Linked DNA regions of Homo sapiens: regions 1, 2, 3, 4, 6 and 7 are each linked to region 5. The links come from fine-mapping of genetic effects on gene expression. A gene starts in region 5. Each other region holds a variant in brackets. All regions are shown on one strand. Distances are from middle to middle.

Region 1 (4,063 bases), 390 kb before region 5:
AGAGGGTGAAAGGTTTTTCTAAGTTCGAGAGTCCTGAGGCAAGGGATGTCCCTGGCTTTTCTTTTAAGGCTAAGAATGCCTTTTGACAGGTTCCAAGCTCCGCCTCCTGGGTTCACACCATTCTTCCGCCTCAGCCTCCTGAGTAGCTGGGACTACAGGCGCCCGCCACCACAGCCAGCTAATTTTTTTGTATTTTTAGTAGAGACGGGGTTTCACCGTGTTAGCCAGGATGGTCTCTATCTCCTGACCTCCTGATCTACCCACCTCGGCCTCCCAAAGTGCTGGGATTACAGGCGTGAGCCACCGCACCCGGCCAACAAGTTTTTTTTTTTAAATGAACAGAGCATCAGTGAATGATAGTGCAAGTTTAAGACACCTAATAGACAAGTTAAAGGAGTCCTCCAGGCAGAAGGAAACTGACACCAGATGAAAATGTGGATGAAAAAAAAAAAGACACTAGAAATGACATCTACATAGGCAAATATATAATTTTAACATCTGACTGTTTAGCTGGGCACGATGGCTCACGCCTGGAATCCCGGCACTTTGGGAGGCCAAGGAAGGCGGATCACTTGAGGTCAGGAGTTCGAGACCAGCCTGGCCAATATGGTGAACCTTCCTCTCTACGAAAAATTCAAAAATTAGTCATATATGGTGGCGCAAGCCTGTAATCTCTGCTACTCAGGAGTCTGAGTCAGGAGAATCGCTCGAACCCGGAAAGCAGAGGTTGCAGTGAGCCAAGACTGTGCCACTGCACTCCAGCCTGTCCGATAGAGTAAGACTCGTCTTAAAAACACCACCACCAGCAACAAAAAAGCAAAAACAAACAAACAAACAAACAAACAAACAAACAAAAACACATCTGACTCTTGAAACAAAAGTAATAGAGATGGATTGTAAGGTTTATAACAGGTGTAAAGTAAAATGCATGACAATAGCATAAAGGCAGGGGGAGGAGTCATGTGAAGAGGTATGATGCCACTTGAAGGCAGACTGTGATGGGTTAATTTTTGTGGAAAGCAAGGCAGAATTTTTGAAGTTTGTTTCTTCAAATACTTTCTGTTTCCCGTACATACAAGCTAGTTTGTTCTGCAGAGATCTCATTTTCTAGGAGGCTCGGAGGGGGACCTTCTGCTGTCTGTCCTCATGGGATGCACAAGACACAAGGGAACAGTCTTTCACTTTTAAATACATTGATGGGTCTGAGGAGATAGATACAACTGCATTTTTTTTTTAAATGAGGTGGGATTCTCATTGGTCTTGAACTTCTGAGCTCAGTGGAGGCTTCCCCTACTTCAGCCTTTCAAAGCGTTGGGATTAATAGGCATGAGGCACTGCGCCTGGTCACAACCAACGTTTAAAATCACGTCCCTGGGTGGTCTGTAACCACCAACCTTATGGTTAACAGCCGAACGCGCTAACCGATTGCACCACAGAGACAACCTCAATCGCTTGCTTTCATCTCTATATAGATTAAGCAATCACTAAACCCTAGGAGTTGCCATTTGCTTTCTGCGGGACAACTGTGCAGACTACAAAGCTTCAGAAAACCGGAGAGGCTGAGTCGACTAATCGTGTTGTTGCACGTTAGAAACGCGTGCATTGCGTGACTCTGAAGCCAGAAGGGCGGCCGAATGGCCTTCACCCTGCGTTCACCCTCGCCTGCTTCAGAAGCCAGTGCCTCTGGAAATGCCTGGATCTGCGACCCCAGCCTGAGCCAAGTAGGGCCCAAGGGAAGCTGAACTCCCCGACGTCTCTCATGGTAGCTCTTTCTGTTCTTTTGCGCCGCCTTCAGGCAATCATCTGTTCCGCTTGCTCTCCCTTCACTCAACTCGGCTTCAGTAGATGG[G/A]GTCGGTGGGGCGGGAGCGGGAAAGAGGCAGGGGAGTCAAAAGGGAAAACGTGAAAAGGAGGAGGGAGAAGCAGGGGAGACCAGGACTAGACAATGGGACAGCCCAGGATGCCCGTGCAGAGGGCACCGGCTGGATGCAGAGAAGATGGGACATGTATCAGATCGGAGAGGAGGAAATGGGGAGAAGATGTGAGAGAAAATCACAAGAACCTGTAGCTGCCCAAGAATAAAGAAGTAAAAATCGCATAATGTTTTTACATTAATAAAAAAAATCGGGGGACCAGGGGCGGTGGCTCACGCCTGTAATCCCAGCACTTTGGGAGGCCGAGGTGGGTGGATCACTCACTTGAAGTCAGGAGTTCGAGACCAGCCGGGCCAACATGGTGTAAGCTCGTCTCTACCACAAATACAAAAATTAGCTGGGCGTGGTGGTGCACGTTTGTAGTCTCAGCTACTTAGGAGGCTGAGGCAGGAGAATCGCTTGAACCTAAGAGGCGGAGGTAGCAGTGAGCCGAGATCGTGCCGCTGCCCTCCAGCCTGGGCGACAAAGCGAAATTCTGTCTCTCAAAAAAATATATAAATAAATAATAGAGGGGTGGGGAAGCAAAACGACGGGCAGTAGGTGTGGGGCGCCTTGGGATTCTCTAGTGGTTAGTAGTCTGCGTTGTGCCTGCAGCAACCTCTGTTCTAATCCGAATCCTGGTACAGTCAGACTCTATCTTGGACCCACTGGGGCGAACCCACGTGTCTTTTGGTTTGCTTTTGATTCCTGCACCAGCTGAGGCCTTTATCTGCAGCCAGAAAGCCGGAAAGCAGGGTTTACCCCTGGCCCCACAGCGCCATACTGTCTGGGGAAAAGAAGGAAACCCAAGAGTACACAAACAGTGGCCCAAAGAGAAACCTTCCAAGTGCTCTATGCCTCACCGTTTAGCAGAAAATATCAAGCAACTCTCAATCTAGCTGGTCTGTACCTTCCACGAATGAAATAATGTATTTATTGCAGTCTTTCTGGTTGAGATATTTCAAATATTTGGTGGAGCTTTTAATGAGAGAGACACTCTCGAGTGTGGAAGAAAAAAAAGAGGGGATGTGAAGATAAGGCGACTTTAGGACAGAAAAAAAAAAAGAGACAAGGAAGCCATGTAAACGTTTTTGGATGGGCGTGAGGCGTTGTCAGTCTTGAACCCCGTTATGTCAGGTAAAGAGCGCAGCCTCTTCTACCACAAACACCATTTCCCACATGGAGGAAATCACAGGGATCAGCAACTCTAGAGTGAGATGAAGAAGCTTCACTCTGGGAGAACCCCCTTCGTGACCACGGTCTCTCCCCTGCCAGGTAAAGTGGAAATGAGCACATGGCTTGCAGGGACAGCACAGCCTCCTCGCCCTGGCCGGTCGCTCAGGGTCACCACCCTCCCCACTGCCGCCCCTCGCCATTCTTCCAAACCACTCTCCACCAAAGATTCCACCGACAGTCACCCCACAAGACAACCCAGGCCGCCTCTCAGCAGCGGCTCCCGCCCCGCAGCCACCGCGCCCTCTCACCCCCGCGCGGTTCTGCCCGCCGCCTCTGCCGAGTCTGCGCACTTCACCTCCCTGGCTCCCGCTCTCCCCTGAGCTTACAGTGGACTCGGGGTTCTTCCGAACCCCTCTTGGGAGTACTGAATGGAAAAGGGGGAGCGTGCGCAAGTGCTTGGTAGAGTGTAGACGTCGTGGGATTTGACTGTGGTACAATCGCTTCGACGTCCTAGTGCTGATTTTTCCACCTGCCTTCTGCTTAGGGCACCGGCAGCAGTTTTCCGTCTGTGCCTACTCCACCTGCTGTCCTTGTTGGGTCAGCGAACATCGCCTCCCTCTACCGCTCAATCAGCAAACGGGACCGCCCTCGAGGACCTCACCCGCCGCTTACCCCCCTAACAAATTCGCGGGCATCGCCTCCGGTCGCCTCTTCCCAAGGCCTAACGAGCGCCTTCGCTGGCAACGGAGGTGAGGAGGCTCCGCTGACTGGCTGGTGCCCGTGTCCGGGGCTGCCACAAACGCCACGACTTGGCTTGGCCTCTCTCTTAGTTATTCGCAGCTCAGCCCGATGGGCGTCTCCGGGGTGGCGACGGGAAAGAAGGTGGGCTTATTGGGTGCAGCTCCACGGGGGCTGGCATCTCTGCCGGGCTGTGTACACCTGAGCGAGAAGCTCAGTCGCTCTCTAAAGCTGCTCCC
Region 2 (4,052 bases), 400 kb before region 5:
ATGGCTTTTAATTCGCAGACTAGAATGTTTCGGATTACAAAAGAAACCGGTTCTCTTCACATCCTTATCCTTGTGATGCAGCATTCCGCTTGCATTTGGAAGCCGTTTAATATCAGAGAGAAGCCATATTTATGAAAGTAAAGAGGCTGCTCAGATGACTGCAAACCAGCCTTCCTTACTGGTTTTATCACTGGTAATGTTATAAAGACAGTTGTCCAGTTTCATGAATCTTGTAGGTTTTTTTTTTTTGATGTTGTTTTTTTTTCAAAAATCCGTATTGTAGAAAAATATGCTGTCCCAGAAGAGATGATTGGACACTCTCAAGCGTGGTGCTGGACTTTGTCATCTCTTGCACAGCCATCTCCACACCTTAGTGCTTACCTCATGTTAGTTTTTTATATTCTGCAAAGACGAAACCAAAATAATCCAAATTTGACACAAATACCTGGGCTACATCTTATTTGAGATGTTTAACAAATGTCTGGATCATCTTTTCTTATATATTACGCAGGAAACACTGTGAAGTAAGCAAAGTTGGAATGCCCAAGTGAAAGACCATTTGAATATTTACAAGTAGATTTCAGACAGGAATACTACAGGGTGGTCACAGGATAACAAATTCTAGGCAGCAGATTTACATGACTTGAGGCTGTGGGCTGTTAAGACGCTGAAAAACCAGGGTGTGGACCAAGCTGGCTAAGGCTGAGTGGACCCAACGTGGTGCTGGATTGGATGGAGGTTTTACCTAGGCCCTCATTATATGCTCATTAACATACTAAATCACACACCCGCCAGTGCCATGACAGTTCTGAGACCAGTGTTTGATGTAAAAATGGCACCACAGTTCCAAGAAATCTCCACCTTTACCCAGGAATTTTCGTGAACATTCCACTCCTTGGTTAAAGAAACCCATCAAGATGAAACCCCAGAACCCATTATTCTCTCTTGGGTATGCCCAAGCTCCCCTTTCTTGAGAGTGTACTTTTTGCTTTGCAATAAATCTCTTCTTTCACTATCTGCTGACTCATCTTTGACTTTGTTCTCGCGATGGTGTCAAGAGCCTGGACACCACGGCTGGGGTCGAGATCCCACCAGTGTCCAGGGACCTCCCCCAGCCCACCAGTATCAGATTCTATTCCATTGCTCAAATCACAAAACATCGAGTGGAGAGTTCTCTTTGGAGACCGTAAAGTAAAGATTCTGTGGCATGGTGGCCAGTTAGGCCACTGGAAGCATGGCAAAATATTGAAAATGAGGGATTGGGTGACAGTGTAGTAACTGCTGAATACTAAATACTTGATCCAGGCCCCATTCCCTGGAGATTGACAGGGAGACACATTGTCCAGGTAGTAGTGGAGAAATGCTTTCTGGGTATCTGACCAGCCTTTGTGGAAAGAACTGGCACCATCCTGCAGATGTAACCACCTGATGGGTTCTTCCTGACCAATGTACACAAAAATTCAATTCATGGAGACCATGGCACTGCAGGAAAGAGTTTCATTGACACAGGCCAGCCACGACATGTGGGAGACAGAGTTATTACTCAAAGCAATCTCACTGAAGGCTTGGAGGTAAGGGGTTTTTCAAAGATAGTTTGGTGGGGAGGGGGCTAGGGCTTGCGTGGTGCTGATTGTTGGGGATGAAATCACAGGGGTGTGGAAAATGGCCCTCCTGCATGGAGTCAGCTTCTGGGTGGGGGCTAAGGGACTGGTTGATTTTCGGGCCAGATGGTGCCTTCCAGCAGTCAGAAATGCAAAAGCCTGAAAAGACATCTCAAGAGGCCAATCTTAGGTTCTACAATAGTGATGTTCTTCACAGCAGTAATTGGGGAAGCTGCCAATCTTGTGACTTCTGGAATAATGGCTGGTAATTATTTAACGAGGCATACATCTTAGTAGAAATCAGGCCCCTTTCATCCTTCTAACTTGGTGGCCTTTCATTCATTTTACAGGGGTAATTTAGTTTTGGGGAAGGTTATCATTTAAAGCAGCCTTTTTGGCTGTCCTCAACCTTTTTGTCACCAGGGACTGGTTTCATGGAAGACAATTTTTCCATGGAAGGGGGTGGTGGATGGTTTCCAGATGAAACTGTTCCACCTCAGGTCATCAGGCATCAGTTACAGTCTCATAAGGAGTGCGCAATCTGGATCACTCACATGAGCAGTTCCCAATAGGGTCCGAGCTCTGACGAGCAGCTAATGCTCATGCTGATCTGACAAGAGGCAGAGCTCAGGTGGTAATGCTCGAAAGCCTGCAGCTCACCTCCTGCTGTTCAGCTGG[G/A]TTCCTAACAGGCCATGGACCAGTACCTGTCTTATGGCCCTGGGGATTGGGGAGTCCTGATTTAAACTATAAACTCTATTTTTCCCAAAGATAGCTTGGGAGAAATTGCACAGGAATGAGCAAAGACAGCAAGCCTGTGAGGCTAGAACCAAGATGGAGTCAGCCATGTCAGCTTTCTCTTGTTGTCATAATTTTGCAAAGGTAGTTTCTGAGGGGCTGCACTGGACACTTCTTAAAAACATGAGACAGATGTTATTGTATTTACTACAGTAGGCAAGAGAGACCAGCAGAGAACTGGGCTCAACCTCGAATACAGCAGGAGGAGTTGAAGATTATAGCCAATTGGCAAGATAAGAAAGTCAGTGGATGGAAAATTACTAAGAGGAACTTGATTAGCTATCAAAGGTGGTTGCGAGGACTCTTGCTAAACTAGACTCAACAGTATTCTTTCCTAAAACTGGACTTGGCAGGCAAAGAAATAACAGAGAAAAGGGCTCAGAGGAAACTACTAAGGTTTGGTCAAAGACTAGAGTCCTTGTCAACTCTACATTGAAGCTTCTGCAAATAAACAAAGACCAACCAAATGAAAAAAAGCAAAAGCTATTTATTCTGAGCTTGCTATAGCAGGGAGTCAGTCACTGTTATTTGTGTTTTGGCAGAGACTTGAAGGCAGTCATAAAGGTGGGAAAGCTTTTTAAAAAGAAAGGCTTCAGGGGCCGGGCACGGTGGCTCACACACATAATCTCAGCACTTCGGGAGGCCCAGGTGGGTGGTCACGAGGTCAGGAGATCAAACCATCCTGACTAACATGGTGAAACCCCATCTCTACTAAAAAATTTACAAACAATTAGCCAGGTGTGGTGGCAGGCACCAGTAGTCCCAGCTACTCTGGAGGCTGAGGCAGGAGAATGGCATGAACCTGGGAGGCGAATCTTGCAGTGAGCCAAGATTACACCACTGCACTCTAGCCTGGGTGACAGAGCGAGACTGTGTCTCAAACAAACACACAAACAAACAAACAAACAAAAAAACAAAGAAAAGCTTCAGGTATGCTTGGATTGGAGGCTGTCAGCATGGTGAAGCTGTTGATAGATGAAGAAAATCAAAGTATTTTACCCCAGAATATATTTCTTTGGCATATTTTAAGATGGCTGTCAGAGAGCCAGCAAACAGAAGGAACTCTGCAAAACTGTCTTTTGTAGGGGAAATTTACACCTGCAGAGAATCTGCATTAATCCAGCTTTATCTTGTCAGGTTTGAGAAATAAAAATAAGCCCTAGGCCCTACAACCAACTGAATGGACTCCCTCTTGGCTGACAGGACCACAGAGAAACTTCGAAAGCAGTTTCTGGATGTGGCAGGCTAGGAGGTTGGACATGCCACCTCAAAACCCTCCCCTCACTAACTGCCATTATGATGCAGGAGAACAGCAGAGGGAATTGGAAGTTGGATAAAAGGCAGAGTGAGTGAAAGCAGAGAAAGAAGCAAGGTGATGGGGTGGGAGAGCAAGAAGCAAGATATAAGGCAGAAGTTGAGCAGCCAAAACAAAAAGTAAGATTTAAAAAAGCAAGCAAGGCTGGGCACGGTGGCTCATGCCTGTAATCCCAGCACTTTGGGAGGCCAAGGCAGGCAGATCACCTGAGGTCAGGAGTTTGAGACCAGCCTGGCCAACATGGCGAAACCCCATCTCTACTAAAAATACAAAAAATTAGCTGGGCGTGGTGGTGCACTCCTGTACTCCCAGCTACTTGGGAGGCTGAGACAGGAGCATCG
Region 3 (4,063 bases), 190 kb after region 5:
CCAGCTCCTGGCAGCCTGGGTGTGACATCCTGCTCTTGGGGCTTTAGAGGAGTCTGGGGGGGGGAGTCGTGGGTGCCAGCCTGTCATGCAACCCCATGGCGAGCAAGAGGCAGGCAAGGACCAGCGGGGAGAATGACCTCAGTCCAGACCTCACACCTGGTGCTCGGCATGGTGGTGGCTGGGGCCCTGTGGGTGGGCAGCTGCCCTGAACAGGGATCAGTGGAGGCAAACAATGACGTCTGCCTTCAGCCAGCTTCCCTCACCACCTGGTGCATCCAGCTGTCCCGGGCCTCTCCTTAGGGAAGAAACAATCTGATCTATAGCTACTCCTCTCCTCAGAAACCTTCAGTGACTCCCTGCTACTTACAGAACAAAGTCCAATGTCTGAACGATGTATTCAAAGCCTGGTTAGAGCTCATTGACCCTCCAGCCTTATACTCCAGGCCTCTGAAGCTGTGCCCTTTCTGTCTCTGTGTGCCCCAACTTCCCTGCCAGTTATCTCTGCCCCTGAGTGGCATGTTCTTGGTCTCACTCTGAACCCCAGTCCATCCTTCAAGACCCAGCTCAGTTGCCACCTCTTCCAGGAAGTCATCCCTGATCTCATCAGCCAGAATATATCTCTCCCTCCATTTATTGGTGTCTCAAACAACACTTAATAAATTCAGTTCTAGATTTCTTTCCCATAAGTGCTATGAAGTCTTTGAGGAGAGGGATCAGGTCTCATTATTACTTGTTTTCAAAATAAACTCAATACTAATACATAACAACTTACTGAGTATTTACTATTATTATTATTATTATTATTATTATTATTATTATTTTTCTAACCACTAGACCACCAGGGAACTGAGTATTCATTATGTCTCAGGCACTGTACCAAGCCCATGGCCCACATGACCTCAGCCCATTCTTTCGATAACCCCATGAGGCCCATACCACTGTGATTTCATTTTACAGATGAGCACATTGAGGCCCCTAGAGGGCAAGCACCCGCTTCAAATCTCAGGGACAGTCATGGCCGAGTGTGAGGGGAACTCAGGCTCTCTGAGACCTGGGCCTGGCTGTCCCCTCCCTGGGAGAGAATTCAAAGTCTGGAGTCTTTCCTGAGATCCCCCAGGTAGGTGTGCCTGGTGTGGGGCAGAGGGGAGGATCAGGCCTGGCTCTGAAGAGGACCAAATGAGAGCCCCTTACTTATTTCACAGGTGGGAGTCTGAGACACAGAGAAGGGACACTAAAGACTGGCTTCCTGTCCTGGGCTCTTGGGTCAATGACAGAGAGAAGCAAGCCTGGGCCCATCAAAGCCTCTGGGTGCAAGGTCTGGCGTGGCTGGGCAGGAAAGAGCTGCCTTCAAAAGCTGCCTCCTCCAAAGTGCAGCAGGTATGTCTGGCCAGCTAGGGGTGGGCACTGGGGTGAGCCCCTGCCACTGTGCTCCCATCCCAACTCAGGGCCCTGCAGTCAATGAGGGAAGGTCTCAGGGACCCCAACTATGCAGGGACTGTGAGCCTGGTTCTCCTTAGAACACTCCCAACCCCAGGAAACTAGCCTGAAACCAGAGCCCTGGAGCAATTCCTGGCAAGGCATCCCGTTTGGGGTTGAGGGCTCTGGGTGCTGTTCTAATTTATGGGCCACCTGACCTGGCCTGAATTCCTCCCACCGTCATTCTCTCAGGAGCAAGCGCTGCTCGGGCCAAGCTTGGCCACATGCCCTTGACCTTCCACAGGCCCATCCAACGGTGCCTGTCCCTTGAGGCTGGGGGTGGGGAGCTCAGCCCCATGACAGGCCAGTCCACAGGCATCACAGGCCACATTCATTCATTCATTCGTTCATTCATTCATTCATTCAGGGAGCCCTTCATTGACTCCAGGGAGGATCACAAACAAGGAGGAGGCACGCCTGAAACATAAGTACCAGGAGGGCAGCCTGGCAGAGCAGGCAGGGGCCTGGGCTCTGCACCCCACAGTTTACTGGCTGTGCCATCCTGGACAAACACTCCTTCCTTCAGTTTCCCCAGCTGCGAAAAGGGGACAATAATTGTACCTAACTCATAAAGTTGTTGCAAGGTTTAAATACGTAAATTATTACATGTCCGTGAGATGAGCATGCAAAGTGTTGAGAAGCCTGCACAAAATAAGTGTTCAATAAATGTCAACTAGTAACATTAAGAAACGATGAGAAGTTGTGCAAAGAAAAAAATGTGATGAAACAGAGTTCTCGGGACTCAGGGTAGGGCACCACGACATGGG[G/GTAGT]TAGTCAAAGAAAGCTTCCTGGAGGAGGTGACATTGGAGCTGAGACTTGACTGATGAAAGTCAGGCTTGTGGGGATCTGGGGGATGGTGTTCCAGGCAGAGGGAACAGCAACTGCAAAGGCCCTGAGGTGGGAATGAGCTTGGCACAGCCAAGGGCTAACAGCATCCACAAAGCCAGCGTGGCCGGAATGGAGTGTGTGCTGAGGAATTGCTAGAAGAGGAGATCAGTGAGGTAGGGCCTGGCACACTATGGGGAGGGGAGCCCATAGCACCCCAGGCCCCCATCATGGAAAACTGGATCTCAGACCCTCCTGGCCTTTGTCCTAATGACACTTTTTAAAAAAGCAAATACATCTCTAGCCTTCACACCAACCAAGAGACAGAAAGTCTGGGAGTGAGTTTGTGCCAAAGTCTAGGAGCGCCTGCCTGATACCTTCTTCCTATCTTCTGCCAGCGAGTTATGGGCAAATTATTACTATTTACTTGATATTACTAGCTGACATTTATCTTCTTTCTGTCTTCTACTGGGACAATGGCTGGTCAGCCTCTGCCTTGGGGAATCCCAGGGAAGGGAATCCTCCCACCTCCACCTCACAGACGCAGCTGGAACCTCTGCACAGGCAAAGGGACAATGTTAAGATCATTCCAGTGTCCTGAAGCTCCTGCAGACCTCAGGATCTGGATCCTGGCTCCTGTACACCAGGGAGGAAAAGAAGAGCCCTGCCTTCTCGAGAACTCTCACTGACAGAGGCATAAGCCGAGGGAGGAACAGAAGAAGCCATTCCCAAGGCCCAGCTTGTGGGCAGAGAGTGACCACCCTGCTACCTACTTTACTCCGAGGCTGCCCTGTCCCTAATAATCCTTCCAGACTCTGGGAGTGTCCATGCCTCCAGGGCTCACAAGAGGTGGGTGGCCAGGATGGAACCAACCTAGGGACTCCCTCTGTGCTCTCTTTCCAACTTCAAGCCCAAATCAGATGGGGACCCAGGCCAGCCCCACTGAAGAAGTGACTGTCGGCTAAAGGGACCACCGGAGGAGATTGTGTGGGCCAGGTGTACCTGTGCCAAGACTAAGATGAGTATATTTGGGAAGAGCAGAAGGAAACAGCGAGTATCTTTAACAACAATCACAAAGTACAATTTCTAACAAACACCCTACTTCCTTCTTTCTATGTATCTATTCATTGCTTGCTGGAGACTAGCAGTCAGAATGAGGCTAGGTCAAGGCATCCATCCCCAGGGGGGCCAGTTTTGCTGGGAGAGCGTGGGTGGCCCAGAGCACCCCTGCCCATGGTGGCCTGGATGACCCCTCATAGGGCAGCATAGTGGTCAATTGTTCATCACTGTGACCCTGAGTGTACATCTTCTATTGAATACAAGATCCTTCCTCCTGTTCTCTGATCGACCCCCATTTGGGTCAGTGGAGACTCAGAGAAGTGAAGCGATTTGCTCAAGGTCACACAGCCCGTGGATGGAAGCTGGTAGGGCAGTGCCTGCCAGGACCACAAGGTCTATTGAGGAATGAGGCTGGGGAGGCCCCTGCTATGTGTCTGGAGGGGATCCTGTGTGCCAGCATCACAGGAAAGGGAGTCCAGAGCCCTTGGGAAAGGGAGTGGGTGCTGAGGCCGTTTCGCTCACCTTTGCGACTCAGAAGGAGTGAGGGTCAGGATGCCACTCCGTAATTAACTGGGCCCAGCACCCCCGGGCCTTGTTCCTTGGGGTCTACTTGGAGGCTCTGGGGGCATCACTTGGGGTCTTGAGCCAGGACCTGTGTCCGGGCAGCAAAGGACTCAGGGAAGAGTGGAGGGCCAAATGGGAGTTG
Region 4 (4,063 bases), 220 kb before region 5:
TCGGGGGTCCCGGGCCGGAGGGAGCCCCCTCCAGAGCCTGTGCTCTCCGAGGCTCCGGCTTGCCCCGGACCCCGCTTGTCCGTCTAGGGGCTGCTCCAACCTGCCACGGTGCTGGTGGTCCTGCTGTGCACCTGGCGGCGGGGGCGGCAGGACCCGACACCTGCTTTACGTGATACTTCCTCTCAGGTTACAGACGCCCGCGCACGGCCAGCCTATGGGCTCCGACGGCCTGACATCACCCGGGGCCCGCCAATCCCAGGCCGAACCCCCCCCAGCCGTCGCGGATGCCACGGGGGCGCCAACTACTCTGCCACACCTGGCCGCGGCTCTGCACCCGCCCCGGGCCAGATGTGACCCCGCCCCCTGCGCCTCTCCCTAAGCTGGGAGCTGAGCCCCCACCTTCATCCCCGCCCGAGAGGAGAGAGGGCTGACCGTGGGCAGAGGGGGCCTCTCATATTTGGCTGCCGGCTCCGGGTCGCGTCCCCACCGTTTCCCTCCTGCATCTGGAAACCATCGCCATCCACGAAAGCGACACCGACACCCGCGCTCAAGCCTCGGATTTCAGGGGCCGTAAGGCGGGGTCGGGTGACAGCGCGGCTTCCCGCCCCGTCGCAGCTGCCCCCAACTAGGCCCAGCTCAGTGAGGGAGAGTGAGGCGGCCGGGCCAAAGACTGAGTGACCGGGTGGGGGCTGTCCCCTGCCCCACTCTCCAGCCCATGCGTCCCTGCGGTGGCCTCAGACCCTTCACCCCGCCCGACCTGGCTCACGTTGCAGGAAACGCGACACCGCAGGATTCGTTTTCTGGGCCAGCCCGCCGGCTCCGCGCCCCCTGCAGCCCGGAGGCTCCGACGCCACGACCCTGCTCCCACCTGCGGTCAGGCACCCGCGCGGGAGGCGCCGCGGCGACACAAAGAGCCCTTTGTAGAGCTTCCCGGCCCGGGCCCTGGCGTCTGCGGCCCAGCACGCACACAGCCGGGAGGGACGCACACAGCCGGGAGGGGGCTCGCACAGCCAGGAGGTGACCTCACAGACCTGGCACTTGGGCTCAGCGGTGGAGAGGGGGCACTGGCTGGGCCACCTGTCCTGTGGATTTGGGCGGGGCCCACAGTCTGCGCCGGGAGCTCAACGATTCCAGGGCCCCTGCAGCCCTACCCGCCCGGCCCCCTCTGCCTCCCAGAGATGAAAGGGGAAAGCCACTGTGGGAGCTTGGTCTAAGGTGGCGTGAAGAGGGCAGCTACTGGAGCTGGCCTGCAGGTTTGGTGTCCCTCCCATGCCTCCCTTGCCCACTGGCCTTGTGACCTGAGTCACCTTGTATGAATTGGCCCTGGGGTGGCTTTGCCTTGGGCTTAAGAGAGAACTGCAAGGTCCCAGGCTCCAGCAGGACCCCAGGGAGCTGCCACACCACATCTGGCCACCTGTGACCTCAGGCTGTCCCCTCACCTCTTAGACCATCCTTGCTCTGTTCCTGTGGCCAGAACGCCAGTGTTCCCCAGGGCACCCTGCCGAGGATACCCGCAATTGCTCAGACCAGACCTCTGCCCCAATCCCTGCTCCAGAGCCTCAGCCAGGCGCCTGCAGGCCCCAGACATCCCTAGGCACCTCACACTTCACCTACCCACCCTGCCCTCATCCTCTCCACACAGGCTCGCTTCCCTCCAGGGCTCCCAGCTCAGGCCTGGCCCTTTCCCCCAGGAGCTCAAGCCCTAAACTGGAACCAGCCACAGCTTCACTTCCTCCCAGCCCCTACTGCCGGTGGGCGCCCAGCCCTGCTAGTGCCTGCTCACCTTCCTCCCTCCCTCCTTCCAGCCCTTACCTCTACAGCCATGCCACTGGCACCTTCCACCTGGCAGCCACCTCCCTTGGGTGACACTCTCCGACTGAGCCTGGGGCTGTGGGGGTGGGGGGGCATGCTTGGGGAGGGGCAGTCTCCATGCATTCTCTGTCAACTCCATGACAACCCGGCCACTCCTGTGCAAGAGGTGGCACAGGCCCAGTTCCTGGTGAGGAACAGCTGTCTGGACCTGCGTCCTTCACCCCCCAGCTCCCATGGAGGGCAGTGACCTGCTCTTACTCTCCTCCCAGTCCAGTGTCCAGCCCTGACCCCTCGTGGGACTCGCCAGGAGCTTTGACTCTTGAATATGCCATGGACCCAGGGACCCCCACCCTGTGCCCACTAGTGAGGCCAGGCCTTTGGCCTGACTGGCCCCCATCAGCCCAGTACCCCTGCTGGGAGGCAGGCAGTGGGTGAGGGCTCACTACCTCCTTCTTGAGGGCCTCTGTCTCCACGTGGCGGAGTTTGTTCTTGGTCTGCATGTAGATG[T/C]CAGCTGCCTGTGGTCCCACAGGAGGCTTGGGAGATGGGTAGCTAGGTGGGGGTGGGGGCAGTTGGGTGCCTGGGGGCGGGGGTGGCGGGGGGAAGCTGGGTGGGGGTGGTGGGGGTATGGGCTTCCCAATCGTGCCCCAAGGCAGGCCCAGCTCTGGGTTCAGCATGTCCATGTAGCTCTGTATGTCTGCAGCTCTAGTGCTGGAAAGCCCTGGGGAGGCAGAAGGAAGGGCCAGATTTGGAAGCATGCAGACAGCCTTTCCCCCAAGAATGAGACTCTCCACCACCTGGAAACAACTTGCCGAGGGCCAAGGTGGGCTCCGGGCACCACTTGGTACACCTGTTGTGGCCCCTGGCGTTGCTGGGCTTCCTCTCCCTGGCCCTGCCCTGCCCCAGCCCAGCACTTATTGGGGGAAGACCAGGCACTCCGGTTTGGAGGGGAAGCACTGGAGGCTTTGGTGTGTCTAGAGGGCAGGGTCACCTGGAAGGGGAGGGTCTACTCCTTGGGAGTACAGATGGCCACATCCAATCTTTGCAGGGCACCCTGCCAGGTCTGGAGGCCACCATCTGGTGGCGTGAAGCAGGCATTGCAAGTGGATGGACGCCCATGCTCAGGGCACGGTCAGGGTGTGTGTACACACAAGCCTGCAGTCTGCCGAGGCGATTGTGAATTTGTGTATGTTTGAGTGTGTACGCATTTGTGCACATGCTTCTTTGTATTGATGAATGTGTGTGCATTGCTCTGTGGACATGGTGTGTGTGTGTGTGCATATCTGTAGTATGGAAATAGAGCATTGTGTGCTTGTGTGTAAGGTGGGTGTGTGCAGATATTAGCATGGCTCTGTATGTGTGTTCATATCTGTATGCTGTGTGTACACATGTACAAGTGTGTGCTTTTGTGTGTGAGTAGCTAAGAATAATGAATGGTGGGTGGCACACGTGGATTTTGTGGGTGGGGAGAGTACATGTGGATGTACATGTATGTCTGTGATGAGCACACACAAGTATGAGTGACATCTGTCTCTCACCAGAAAGGGTGTCGCCTCCCCATGTTTAAAAGCAAGTGATAAGAGTAGTCTCCGATATTGGCTGTGGCAGGCTGGCCCAAGGCCAACCCTCACAGCCCAGCAGTCTGGCTTCAGTCTGCTCTCCCTCCCCCTCTTCCTCCTGGGCACACTCACCACGTGGAGGGTGCTGGCCCTTGATGCTGGAGTGGCTGGAGGAGCAGGAGTCGTAGTTGGAGAGGGTGCTGGTGGGCGAGCTGAGGTCAAAGTTCAGAGGCTGGACCGACACCGTGGTGTTGGGTGAGGACATGCCTGAATCCGGCTGCTTCGCCTCCAGCTCCACGGATGGATCCCGGGAGAGCACGCAGTGCTCCATGCTCTGAAGGGGAGGCAGGGAGGCCATGAAGGCAACTGCACCCCAAGATGCGTTGCTCTCCAGGCCAGGGTCCTACTCAGCCATGCCTTTGCCGTGGGATCTTGGCCAAGCCACACCCCTCTCTGGGGTCTCTTCCCCATCGCTAGAGGGTCTTTCAGGTTCCTCCGGGTTAAGATTCAAGCCCAGCCCCGCCAGGCAGAGGACCCAGGTTCCTGGGAAACTCCCTCCCCTGGCTCCTCCCTGATTAGGAGGGTGGAGAGATCGACGAGGAGGGGGCCTTGAGCTGCACCCCAGGGGGAGAACTGCCAGGAGATCGGCCTTCTCCCTCACAGATCGGCACAGGCTCCATGGGGAAGGGCACAGC
Region 5 (4,063 bases):
TCCTTTTTTAGGGCTTACAACTCTAAGGGCAGGAGCCCAGACACGTGATGCTAATGACAATAGGAACAGTGGCCCCCATTGGCTAATAGCTCACCACCTGCCAGGTGTGGTAGGTACTATCAGTCGCATTTTTTTGTTGTTTTTGGTAGGACAGAGTCTCGCTATGTTGCCCAGGCTGGTCTCAAACTCCTGGGCTCAAGCGATTCTCCCATTTTGGCCTCCCAAAGTGCTGGGATTATAGACCTGAATCACCACACTCGGTCTAGTCTCATTTTATTTTATTTTATTTTTTTGAGACAGACTCTTGCCCTGTCACCCAGGCTGGAGTGCTGTGGCACAATCTCGGCTCACTGCAACCTCCTCCTCCTGGGTTCAAGTGATTCCCCTGCCTCAGCCTCCTGAGTAGCTAGGATTATATGCACATGCCACCACGCCCCAGCTAATTTTTTTTATATTTATTTATTTATTTATTTATATTTTTGAGACGGAGTCTTACTGTGTCGCCAGGCTGGAGTGCAGTGGCATGATCTCGCCTCACTGCAACCTCTGCCTCCCAGGTTCAAGCGATTCTCCTGACTCAGCCTCCCAGGTAGCTGGGACTACAGGTGTGCACCACCATGCCTAGCTAATTTTTGTATTTTTAATAGAGACGGGGTTTCACCATGTAGGCCAGGATGGTCTTAATCTCTTGACCTCCTGATCCGCCTGCCTCAGCATCCCAAAGTGCTGGGATTACAGGCCAATTCTTGTATTTTTAGTAGAGATGGGGTTTCACTATGTTGGCCAGGCTGGTCTCAAACTCCTGACCTCAAGTGATCTGCCCGCCTCAGCCTCCCAAAGTGCTGGAATTAGAGGCTTGAGCCACTGCACCTGGCCTGGTTTAGTCTCCTTTTAGAGATGAGAAAACTGAGGCTCAGGGAGGTAACCTGTTCAAGGTCTTACTGTCTTGAACACCATAGTTGCAAGTGACAGAGCTGAGTCTCACATGCAACCTCAGACCTGATACTGACTCCAGAGCTGTGCGCCTAAGCACTAGAGCACATAGCCTCCTTGCCCCAGGGAAAGAACAATGGGAGGTGGTGGGTGACCTCTGGGTCTCAGGGCCCTGGGATATAGGGACTGTGCCTTTTTTTTTTTTTTTTTTGAGACAAAGTTCCACTCTTGTTGCCCAGGCTGGAGTGCAATGGCGCGATCTTGGCTCACTGCAACCTCTGCCTCCTGAGTTCAATCGATTCTCCTGCCTCAGCCTCCCAAGTAGCTGGGATTACAGGTGTGCACCACCACACCCGGCTAATTTTTGTATTTTTGGTAGAGACGGGGTTTCACCATATTGGTCAGGCTGATCTTGAACTCCTGACCTCAGGTGATCCACCCGCTTTGTCCTCCCAAAATGCCGAGATTACAGGCATGAGTGCCTGCGCCTGGCTGGGACTGTACCTTCTGGATTTTCAAATGAATGAAATGAGTATTTCTTGAGTGTTGGCCACGTGACCCCCCAGCACCATGTCATGTGCTGGGTATGCACACACGATACTGTTTCATCCCCGGACGGCTCCGAGAGATGAGTACCAATATTATCACATCTTACGTAAGAGGACACTGAGTCTCAGAGAGGCAAAGTCAGTGTCCCTGGTGCACCCAGCTAGTGGGGGCTGGGGTGGGTGTGAAGGGGCCAGAAGCTTCCCAATAAGTGCCTGAAGGGCAAGGCTAGGGCATTTGTAGTTCGAGGCTCTACCACTGTGTCTAGGTCAGACCTAGGAATGCCGCAGGTGTTGCATAAATGCTCATCAGTCCAGGCTGGACCGCTCATGCCCAACTAAGTGCCAAGCCTGGCCTGGGTGATCTCACAGCCTGCATTCTTTGCCCTACACCTGTTGTGGGAAAACATACTCCCAGCATGCTGTAAATCCTCTCATTCTTAGCTAACCATGTGACTCCCGTTCTGGGCCAGAAAGATGGTCACAAATACTTAGGACTCTGGCCTTTCCCGCCGCATGGCTACTGACCCCACCCCCTGGGCTTGGAGGGCTCTAGGACCCAGCAACCTGCGCAGGGTGAAGAGTGTGTGAGGTCCTGACCTCCAGGTGTCTCCCCTGTTTCCTCCTCCCATTCCCTCTTCTCTCTCCTCCCTCCTTTTCTCTCCCTTCTCCTCCCCTCTCTTCATCCTTCCTCTTCCTTTGGCTCCCTGCCTCTGCTTCCCTCCTCTCCTGTCCTTTCCCATCCCCTCCCTCCTCAGCCCACATCCTGCTCCTCCCACCGCGGTGGTCACATGGGGGCGCCGCCGGATTTAAGCTTAATCTGCCTGGTGCTCAGCACAGCATCCTGGCTGTGGCGCGTGCTGACTGAGCTAGTCTTGGGGTCCTGGAGAAGGGGGCTGGAGGCATGCCCACAGCCTCCCCCCCATGAGCTTGGGGCTGGCGGGGGCACAGGAGGTGGAGCTGACACTAGAGACGGTTATCCAGGTGGGTCCTGGGGGCTGTGCCCACCCTGTCTGGGGCGGGGCAGCGTGGACTTAACAGGAGTGGTGAGAGGTGTGTGCGTCTTGGGGATCAAGGGGTGGGAGAGGTGTGGTGGTGGTGGGGTATACAGGGGCCCCCCGCTTGCAGTTCCTGGCAAGATGGGGGGCAGAGGTACACACAGGGTGCACCTGCTGTGGCTCCCTCATCCCAGTGCCCTGGGTTGGGAGAAGGGGGTCTCTACTGCCAGATTTTAGGGCTTGGGGGACCTCTGGCATAGCCAGATCCTCATCCATCTAGGGTCGGAACCGGATTGGGGCCCCCAACACTGGACTGCCTCCAGTGGGGTTTGGGAGTTACCCGTAGGGTTTGGTTCTCATCTCTGGCCCTGGGCCTTCTTCCTGGGGCAGTGAGCACACAAGAGGCTCTTTGCATGGGGATTTTTTGGATTCTAACTCCCAGGCTTCACTCCATCTTGAGGGGGCTCCTGGGGACCTGTATCTTGGGCAGTAGGATTCTGTGGCTCTCCCCACGAGGCCAGGGAGCCCCGGGTCCCATGTCCCCTGAAGACCCTCTCGCTTTTCCCACAGACACTGGAGAGCAGCGTCCTGTGCCAGGAGAAAGGCTTGGGCGCGCGGGACCTGGCCCAGGACGCTCAGATCACCAGCCTGCCTGCCCTTATCAGGGAGATTGTCACCCGCAACCTCTCCCAGCCTGAGAGCCCAGGTGCCACCCCCATCCGCTCCCCTCCACAAACACCACCCACATTTTACCTCTTCTCATGTCCCTTTCCTGAGCAGTCACCATGATGATCATGACTGTAACTCACTGTGGGGCAGGCACAGCTTTATGACAGAAGAACCCATTTTACAGATGAGGAAACAGAGGCTCAGGGATGTAATTTGTCCAGACTTATTCCGCATGTGGTGCAACTAGAAGGAAGGGCCGAGCATCTCCTGCGTGCTTGCCTGTAGCCTGCTGCAGAGATGTGAACCCCAAATCCCGTATTCCCACCCGGGGAAGGTGTGAGCTGGCTGAACCCAAGATACAGGAAGAGGGCAGCTCAGCTCAGACCAGGGTTTTGCGGAAGTCTGAGTGGATGGCGCCGTCCATCCGTTTCCCACGTGGGCAGGAAGGCGGATGGTCCCTGCTCCTCTCAGTGGGTGGCGCACACGGTGTAGTTATGTGGCTTGAGGATCTGGGAAAGGCACACTCAGTTGCAGCTGGTGTGCTGGCGTGTGGCGTTTTGGTGCTCTAACCATTGTCTGTGTTCAACTCCCAAGCTACAGACGGGCCCCCTCCTTGGGAGCGCCAGGGATGTTGGCGCCCTGGAGCCCCAGACAGGGAGAGACTCAGAGGGCCCTCACCCTGACACCTGGGGTGTATGTCCAGTTCTCCCAGGGTAGAAGGGGAACCCACAGGAGGTGGACAACCCCGCTTCTCCCGCTGGCCTTTCTTTCCCTCTTCTCTCTTTCTCCTTCTCCTCACAACCTGACCTATGCTATGCTCTCCTGAGCCCTAGCCTTTAAAGTTCCATGAAGCCCTTCTCTTGAGCGAGGCTTTGATGCTTTTCTGGGAGGATCTGGTTACTACTATTCTACCTTTTT
Region 6 (4,063 bases), 170 kb after region 5:
AGGCATTGGCTGGCACGTGGTTTGCCTTAACCTTTCTAGCTACTTTGGAATGATTCCACTTCCCAGCGAGACTCCTTGATAGTGTGACCAGCTGATTTGGTTTCCCTAGGACTGAGGGGTTTCCTGGCATGAGGAGCCCTCAGTGCTAAAATAAGGAAAGTCCTGGGCAAACTGGATTACCATTTCCTTGTATAAAGAGGTAAGGCCCCAGTGCTTGGTGTTTTGGGCAGAATTTGAGGCTAAGGCCGTTACCAGGTCTTCCTAGGAGCACTGAAGCCTTCTGTCCACTCCAATCATTGTAACTAACAGTCATCATCATAATCTCAACAAAAGCCATAATTGCCATTTATGGAGAGCTTTCCAAAGGCCAGCTACTGCACTCAGTGCCTGACACACCTTCCTCATTAGATCCCCACCACGATCCGGGACACCCGGGACAGTCGGAACTCTTACTACTCCCATGCCACGTCAGAGATGAGCACCCCAAGGCTGGGGCTGGTGAGAAGACTTGCCTGGACCCAGAATTGTAGCTCCCTGACTCCAGCACTCCCTATAGGGGTCCTTCAGTCTCCAACCCAGCCCCCTGGCCTTGGGGAGAGCTGGTCTGACCCTACCAGGACACCTGACATTCGCTCATCCACAGGGGTGCCTGGAATTTGACATAACTCCAAAGTGTTTGCCTGGAAGAAAAAGAGACTGTGCTCCTGGTCAATTATCTGTCGTCCTTTGCTTGTGTGTGTGTGTGTGTGTGTGTGTGTGTGTGTGTGTCTAAGAGTTTTCACCCAGTGACCCAGTGTCAGCATTATTGGGAAACTGTCTCTTCTGGGTCCCCACTGTCTCAGTCGTGGCTGCTCCCCACAGGATGGGCAGCCCAAATAAGAGGCTCCAAGGGACGTTCTCAAAGCCCTTGTGGTAGTAGTTCCTCTTTTTTCTTGTCTGCTCAGGACCCATCTCAGATGGCAAGTGATGAGGAGGGATGAGATTATGGAACCAGACCAGTCCACTCCCTTTAGCAAAAAGAAGAAACTTCTAGATAATGTCCAGACATCATTATTTGCAACAGGTCTCGTGTCACGACACCAAGGTCAAGAGGCCGAGGTTGAGGTCCTGCTTGCATCCCTCCTGCTCCCACTGGTGATCCCATCCTCCATGACAACCCTGGCCTGGATGGTGTCAACATCAACATCTCCGGCCCCCTGCGGCAGCGGAGCCAGCCTGACTCTGGGCACATTCCAACCTGTGTGAGGTCACTGCTTGGAGCCCAGGGTGGATCAGAAGGAAGACTGGTATTGGGTGGCTGCTGGCCACTGCCATCCTGGCTAAATATCTCCCTGATGTGAGGGTCCAGGGTCCCTACTCACCTCATGGTGAATGCCCTGGATCTAGTAGGCCTGTCTAGAGGTGGGTTCGGGGCTGGGCCAGAGATCCTGGCCCCCCTAGGCAGCTGGGCATGCAGAAGCCTCCTCCCGCCACCCCACGACCCGCCTTGTACCATGGCAAATTGCAATGCCGACTATTTTGCTGAGGGAGTTTTTAAAACACATACATCATTATTATGACAGTCCCTTGCATAAAACCCTCTAATGGCATTCCATTGCACTCAGAAGAAAAT[C/T]CAAACCCAGTCTGCATGCTCTGGCCCCTGGCCGAGCTGACTGACCTTGACTCCCAGCCCTGCTCTGGGCTTCCATCTGCTCTTCCCACACTCTAAACTGGTCTCCTCCTCCAGGCTTTGCAGATGCTGTTGCCTCTGCTTAGAACACTCTTCCCTCAGCTCACGAGTGGCTGGTTCCTTCTTATTGTTCATCTGAGTCTCAGCTCAGATGTCACCTCCTCAGAGAGGCCTTTTCAGAGGCACCCATCTAGTGGTGCCTCTGCCCTGCCATTCTCCTCACTTATTCTATTTCATTTCCTCCAATTGTGGTACTGATTATGTCTCTCTTGCTAGACTGGCGGCTCCTTGAGGGCAGGGTGTGATTGTTGTGTTTACTGCAGAGATCTCAAAGCTGAGAACAGGGCCTGGCACCAAAGGGCTCAACACATATCCACAGACAGGGTGAGGCAGAGCCGGCAGCTACGAGGACTAGCTCCAGGGCAGGAGCCCGTGCCCTACACAGTGGGGGCCCAGGACATCTGTTGCCATCGAGAGGAGCAAGGGGTCAACTCTTCAAGGGTGCCCACTGCATCTTTAGGGGGTCTTTGAAAGTCAGAGATGGCAGAAAATACCTGGAGGTGGTGCCTGCCCTGCCTCAGGTATCCTGAAGGTGACATGACTCCAGAAAAGAAGTGCCCAAATGCCCTTCCTCCCCTGATTCGTAGGGAGGAAGGGCCTCTGGGTTCTACATAGACCCATGTCACTCCAGACTCCTTTGAGAGGAGGAGCGATGTGTCCCCATGGAGTCTTTCAACTTCACGGGACAACAGCATTGCCATGTTACAATCACTCAGAGACCAATCCAGGTCTTCCCCAGGCACCTGCACCTGTGAAGGCCACAACTGCTAAGGGGAGGAGGGTAGGTGGCTAGAAAGGTCTAGGCTGGACTGGGCTGGGATCACTCACTCTCCACGTAGAACACGCCCACTTTGTCTGAGTCTGACATGGAAATGTACAGAACTATCTCGTATCCGGCGGGGAGGCGGTCGGGGCCTTTGGTCCGCAGGATCATCTGGGACATGTCCTTGAGATCTGAGGGACAGAAGGTGAGAATGAAGAGATCTATCTGTTGCTGGAGCCTCAGCTTCCCAATGCCTTTTACTTTGATAATCAGGAAAAAATCCCCATGGATGTGTATTATGGAAACTATAGAAAAGCATAAAGAGGCTGGGTGCTGTGGCTCACACCTGTAATCCCAGTGCTTTGGGAGGTTGAGGTGGGTGGATCACTTAAGGCCAGGAGACAAACACCAGCCTGAGCAACATAGCAAGACCCCATCTTTACAAAAATAAAAAAAATTAGCCACGCATGGTGGCATGTGCCTGTAATCCTGGCTACTCAGGAGGCTGAGGCAGGAGGATGGCTTGAACCCAGGGGGTTGAGGCTGTAGTGAGCTATGATCATGCCACTGCACTCCAGCTTGGGCAATAGAACAAGGCCTTGTCTCAAAAAAAAAAAAAAAGAAAAAAAAAGAAAAAGAAAAAAGCAAAGCATAAAACAGAATAAAAACCAGTTGTCATTTCCAACACTAGAGATGATTAACCTTTTGGGAATTTCCTTCTGGTCTATTTTCTTTTTATTCTTCTTCTTCTTCTTCTTCTTTTTTTTTCTTGAGACAGAGTCTTGCTCTGTTGCCCAGGCTGGAGTGCAGTGGCATGATCTTGGCTCACTGCAATCTCTGCCTCCTGGGTTCAAGTGATTCTCCTGCCTCAGCCTCCTGAGTAGTTGGGATTACAGGTGCATGCCACCACGCTCAGCCAATTTTTGTATTTTTAGTAGAGATGGGGTTTCACCATATTGGTTAGGCTGGTCTTGAACTCCTCACCTCATGATCTGCCTGCCTTGGCCTCCCAAAATGCTAGGATTACAGGTGTGAGCCACCACGCCCGGCCCTTGTCTATTTCCTATGGTTTTGCCTTTGGCTTTAAGCAAGAGTGGGAATTTGTGTCCACCATCCCCAGGAGGCCTGAGTCCACACCTGCCTCACCCTCAGCCCAGCCCAGGACTGGGCATGAATCTTTTCACTCCTCTCATCCTGCCCCCCAAGTGCAGGGCCTGCTGGCACCTTCCTTGCTGTAGACCTTCTCATCACGGCAGTCCTCCTTGGGCAACCAGGGTGTCTCTCGGTCACAGTTCACCAGCAGGATGGCCCCCTGGCCCTCGGGGCCCCAGGTCCAGGATGCCTACAGTGGCAGGAAGAAAGGTCAGTGCCCTCTTCTCTATGCTTGTATAGACCCCATGGGACACTGGAGAGATAGCCCCAGGATGAGGGTAAAGAGTAGCCGCCACCCACTGGGGCAGCTGTGACCTGGCAAATGTGAATCTCAAGACTGATGTCCACAGAGGATGAATGTGGGCATCAAAGGCAAGTTCAATAGAGGCACAGAGACAGGAAGGCTGACTGAGGCATTT
Region 7 (4,063 bases), 33 kb after region 5:
GCCCACCTCGGCCTCCCAAAGTGCTGGGATTACAGGCATGAGCTACGGTGAAGATCTTAAAGAAGGGGCGGTTTGGCCGGTCGTGCTGACTCATGCCTGTAATCCAGCACTTTGGGAGGCCGAGGTGGGCAGATCACCAGGTCGGAAGATCGAGACCATCCTGGCTAACACAGTGAAACCCCATCTCTACTAAAAATCACAAAAAATTAGCTGGGCGTGGTGGCACGCGCCTGTAGTCCCAGATACTTGGGAGGGTAAGGCAGAAGAATCGCTTCAACCTGGGAGGCAGAGGTTGCAGTGAGCCAAAATCTCGCCACTGCACTCCAGCCTGGGTGACAGAGCAAGACTCCGTCTAAAAAAAAAAAAAAAGAAGTGGCAGCTCTGTCTGCTTCTCACAGAGTTGCTAGGGGCAAGTGCTGAGGCAGGCACCTGCCCTCAGGCTCCCCAGGTGGGCTGCTATTTGCCTGTGGGCTCTGCCTGCCCGCCTGTCCAGTCCCCAGGGATCTGAACTCCTGTGACCTCCCCCTTGCTCTTCTTGCCCTTTGCATTGCCTGGCTTGGCCTCATTAATGTCCCCAAATCTGTGTTCTCTCCAGCTCCTCTGGCAACCCCTGACCCCCTTCATTCCTCACAGCCAGTCCTAACTCCCCTCCATCCCAACCCCAATCCCTCTTCCACAGCTGTCGGAACATCCCCTAAGCTAAAAATCAGATTGCTCCTTGTCACCTTGGCTCGAGTCCTCTCTCCCACTCCCCTCACTGTCCTTAGAATCCCCATGGCCCACACGGCCTGTCCTGGCCCCACCCCTGCCTGGGGCTCTGGCCCTGTGACTCACCATGTCCCGTTCCCCTCTGCACCCTGCATCCTCTAGGCCTTTCCAGGGGCTGTGTTCTTGGCCTGGGGTGGTCTTTTCTCTCCTTACCTGGCTGACAGTTACTTGTCCCTCCGCAGGGGACCATGTTCGGACCCCCAGGCCAGCCCACTGCTGCTCCTTGGCACTTTCACGGCCCTGGCGTGTCCCCGTCATAGCCCTTATCACTCCCTTGTATTTACCTGGTCACCCTCCATCTCTGAGGGTATGGGGGCCAGATGGCTCTTGCTGCCCTGATGTTTTGGGGGGTCTGCCTGGGCCCCCTCCTGGTGTGTCACAGGCATCCGGTCCTGGCCCCCTAGGAGGCAGCATGGCGGGAGCTGGAGGCCGAGCGGGCCCAGCTGCAGAGTCAGCTGCAGCGTGAGCAGGAGGAGCTGCTGGCCCGGCTGGAGGCTGAGAAGGAAGAGCTGAGTGAGGAGATTGCTGCCCTGCAGCAGGAGCGCGACGAGGGCCTCCTCCTAGCAGAGAGTGAGAAGCAGCAGGTTCGTGAGCCCTGGCATGGCCTCTGCTGCTCTCTGAGCTGCTCCAGTTCTGGGGCCGGGCCCTGCTCTGCCACTTGGCAGCTAGGAGCCCTGGGGCAGGCCACTGCCCTCTTGGGGGCCTCAGTTTCCTTACCTGCAGGAGGGGAGGATTAGAAGGGGGTTCGTGAGGCTTTGCTGTGCTCCATGCCTGGCACACAGTGAGCACTTACTGAGTGACAGTGACAGTCGTGACACCAGGAAAGCTGTTCCATATTCTCCCATGCCTCGTCCCACCCCACGCTGGGCATGGATCCTCATGGCTGCCTTCTGAGCAGTCCCCACGATGCCCACAGGCATCAGCTGACGTGTCCCCCCAAATAACAAATCCCTAACTTTCCTATAATGTAACGGAGACAGGGCAGACTGTGCCCATCTCCTCTCCTCACCAGCTGTGTACCTGGGCGAGTCACTTTACCTCCTTGAGCCTCAGTTTCCTCATCTGTAAGATGGGTAGAAAGAAAGACTCTGCAGTCAGGGTGCTGTGGCGGG[T/C]TAGTGAGCTCTATGAGTGGTATCCACGTCCGGGATTCTTGTGACTGCCGTTGTGCCCTTTTCCAGGGCTGCATGTCTGCCCTGGGTCCACCTGCAGTGGCACACTCAGGCCTCTAAGCCCCCAGTGGGCACATTTCCTAGGCAGCAAGAAGCCTGAGCATGCCCCCAGGACCAGCCCATCCCCCAAGCCCTTTGTCCCCTGCCTCTGCCCAGGCCTTGTCTCTGAAGGAGTCTGAGAAGACGGCGCTGTCAGAGAAGTTGATGGGTACACGGCACAGCCTGGCCACCATCTCCCTGGAGATGGAGCGGCAGAAACGAGATGCCCAGAGCCGGCAGGAGCAGGACCGGGTAGGGCAGGCTGGGCAGCTGGGCCTCTGTCTCATAGAGAGGCACATCCCTGGCTGAGGAGCCCCCACCACGGGGCGGCATGGCCCTGTCCTGGAGAAGCTTCCAGGCTGTGGGAAAGGAGGTTTAGCCCTTCTTTTGGGAGCCCCCATCTGAGGGAGGTGGCTCAGCCCTGCCCTGATGAATCCTTTTGGCGTGAGGGAGAGGCTGGCTACACGGGCAGCACTCACTATGCATCCAGGGGTTGGCAGAGGGTCCGGCAGGCCAGCGGGAGGGGCCGTGTTTAGAGCTAAAAGTGGACAGTGCACTGAGCGGGTTGGGAGCAGCCCGGGGCTGGGGGACACAGCAGGACCAAGTCTGAGGAGCCCCTCTGTCCCAGAGCACCGTGAACGCTCTGACGTCTGAGCTGCGGGACCTACGGGCCCAGCGGGAGGAGGCTGCTGCGGCCCACGCCCAGGAGGTGAGGAGGCTGCAAGAGCAGGCCCGAGACCTGGGCAAGCAGCGGGACTCCTGTCTTCGCGAGGTGAGCAGCCGCCCCCCTCTTCCAAGCAGCATACCCTAAATGGCACTGTGTGCCTGGGGGCCTAGTTCCCCAGGGCCCCAGAAGAGTGTAAGATTCCTCCCTGCATTTGAGGACCAATGAATAGCAACTTAGAAAGGAGGCAGCAAGCACTACGAAGCACCTGTTGTGTACAGGTGGGATTTGGCCTCAAGGAGGGGTGAGTGGGGTCTCTGCCCTCTTGGTGTTGTGCTCAGGACAGTCCTGATTGATGGTGACTTCAGGTCAAAACATTACTGATTACAGCACGCCTTGCTCAAATGATAACTCACAGCCTGCGGTCTGAGCACTGCAGAGGGATGGGGCAGGCTCCCTGGGTCCAGGGATCTGGGGTACAAGACCCAGCTTGACGGGGGGGTCCCTGACCGCTGCCCTGGGGACACCTGCTGTGCTCACAGGCAGAAGAGCTTCGGACCCAGCTGCGTCTGCTGGAGGATGCCCGTGACGGGCTGCGGCGGGAGCTGCTGGAGGCCCAGCGCAAGCTGCGTGAGAGCCAGGAGGGCCGGGAGGTGCAGCGCCAGGAGGCAGGCGAGCTGCGACGCAGCCTGGGCGAGGGTGCCAAGGAGCGCGAGGCCCTGCGGCGTTCCAATGAGGAGCTTCGGTCTGCTGTGAAGAAGGCAGAGAGCGAGCGCATCAGGTGGGGTGTCGCAGGAGGACCAGTCCTGAGTCCTCATGGGATCCCATCCCTGAAACCTAACTTCACCCCCAACGTTCTGGGGAAATTGCCCAGATACGGATCCTCTGTCTCCTAAGCAGAGCCTGGCACCTGGGTGATTTTAGGAAGGTTTCCTCCCTGTTGATTGGGGAAAGGGGCAGAGGGGCAGTGGGCAGCTTTGGGTCCAGACTCAGACCCACCCACCGTCATCACCCTGGAAACCAGGTCCCCTCCTGGAGTCACTGGTCTACCCCTCCCAGCCGAGGGCCTGGGCCCCAGCCCTGCAGGGCTCAGGGCTTAGCTCTTCAGAGAGGCCACATGGGCAGGCAGTGCCTGATCCACTCCAGAAATTGGAGGAGACGGCTTTTGTGTAGAGCCACTGACTACTCCCAGGACCCAGGGCAGCCCCTGACCTCTGCCCTCTCCAGCCTGAAGCTTGCCAATGAGGACAAGGAGCAGAAGCTGGCACTCCTAGAGGAGGCACGGACAGCTGTGGGCAAGGAGGCCGGGGAGCTGCGAACTGGGCTGCAGGAGGTGGAGCGCTCACGGCTGGAGGCTCGGCGGGAGCTGCAGGAGCTCCGGCGTCAGGTACTCTCCCTGTGCCACCCCTTAGCCTGGGGCTTG

What was found. PIP is the estimated chance that this variant, and not a neighbour inherited with it, causes the effect.
Region 1: its variant is fine-mapped to the expression of CROCC in tibial artery (GTEx, PIP above 0.99). The same link has a PIP of 0.9 or more in subcutaneous fat.
Region 2: its variant is fine-mapped to the expression of CROCC in esophagus muscle (GTEx, PIP above 0.99). The same link has a PIP of 0.9 or more in fibroblasts.
Region 3: its variant is fine-mapped to the expression of CROCC in whole blood (INTERVAL, PIP above 0.99).
Region 4: its variant is fine-mapped to the expression of CROCC in pituitary (GTEx, PIP above 0.99).
Region 6: its variant is fine-mapped to the expression of CROCC in whole blood (INTERVAL, PIP above 0.99).
Region 7: its variant is fine-mapped to the expression of CROCC in whole blood (INTERVAL, PIP above 0.99).

Annotation. Positions count from the first base shown.
Region 1 is chr1:16,531,032-16,535,094 of GRCh38, forward strand. LINC01783 (long intergenic non-protein coding RNA 1783) reads right to left here. Exons shown (of 2, transcript NR_135764.1): 1 at 3,395-4,063; 2 at 2,860-3,178. It also overlaps the pseudogene RNU1-6P. Among named protein-coding and RNA genes, the nearest start is that of TRE-TTC4-1, 2.3 kb to the right of the region's middle. RefSeq lists enhancers at 1,223-1,748, 1,749-2,274, 2,834-3,591, 3,592-4,063, 3,847-3,896. The variant G/A (reference allele first, on the strand shown) is at 1,850.
Region 2 is chr1:16,514,740-16,518,791 of GRCh38, forward strand. No RefSeq gene overlaps it. Among named protein-coding and RNA genes, the nearest start is that of RNU1-1, 2.5 kb to the left of the region's middle. RefSeq lists enhancers at 1-196, 1-54. The variant G/A (reference allele first, on the strand shown) is at 2,280.
Region 3 is chr1:17,112,469-17,116,531 of GRCh38, forward strand. The region is part of intron 1 of PADI2 (peptidyl arginine deiminase 2); the gene reads right to left. LOC124903861 (a long non-coding RNA gene) reads left to right here. Exons shown (of 3, transcript XR_007065506.1): 2 at 958-1,117; 3 at 1,203-1,377. Among named protein-coding and RNA genes, the nearest start is that of PADI2, 5.0 kb to the right of the region's middle. The variant G/GTAGT (reference allele first, on the strand shown) is at 2,244.
Region 4 is chr1:16,700,443-16,704,505 of GRCh38, forward strand. It overlaps LOC124903858 (a long non-coding RNA gene), which reads left to right. Exons shown (of 3, transcript XR_007065500.1): 2 at 187-1,253; 3 at 2,513-4,063. It also overlaps the pseudogene ESPNP. Among named protein-coding and RNA genes, the nearest start is that of TRG-CCC4-1, 24 kb to the left of the region's middle. RefSeq lists an enhancer at 556-1,241. The variant T/C (reference allele first, on the strand shown) is at 2,320.
Region 5 is chr1:16,919,617-16,923,679 of GRCh38, forward strand. CROCC (ciliary rootlet coiled-coil, rootletin) reads left to right here and starts at 2,315. Exons shown (of 37, transcript NM_014675.5): 1 at 2,315-2,462; 2 at 3,047-3,182. The coding sequence starts at 2,403. RefSeq lists enhancers at 957-1,729, 1,730-2,501, 2,502-3,273, 3,274-4,045.
Region 6 is chr1:17,089,851-17,093,913 of GRCh38, forward strand. It overlaps PADI2 (peptidyl arginine deiminase 2), which reads right to left. Exons shown (of 16, transcript NM_007365.3): 5 at 3,717-3,834; 6 at 2,558-2,683. Among named protein-coding and RNA genes, the nearest start is that of PADI2, 28 kb to the right of the region's middle. The variant C/T (reference allele first, on the strand shown) is at 1,613.
Region 7 is chr1:16,952,130-16,956,192 of GRCh38, forward strand. CROCC (ciliary rootlet coiled-coil, rootletin) reads left to right here. Exons shown (of 37, transcript NM_014675.5): 21 at 1,173-1,352; 22 at 2,094-2,228; 23 at 2,605-2,748; 24 at 3,183-3,421; 25 at 3,868-4,027. Among named protein-coding and RNA genes, the nearest start is that of MFAP2, 26 kb to the right of the region's middle. The variant T/C (reference allele first, on the strand shown) is at 1,881.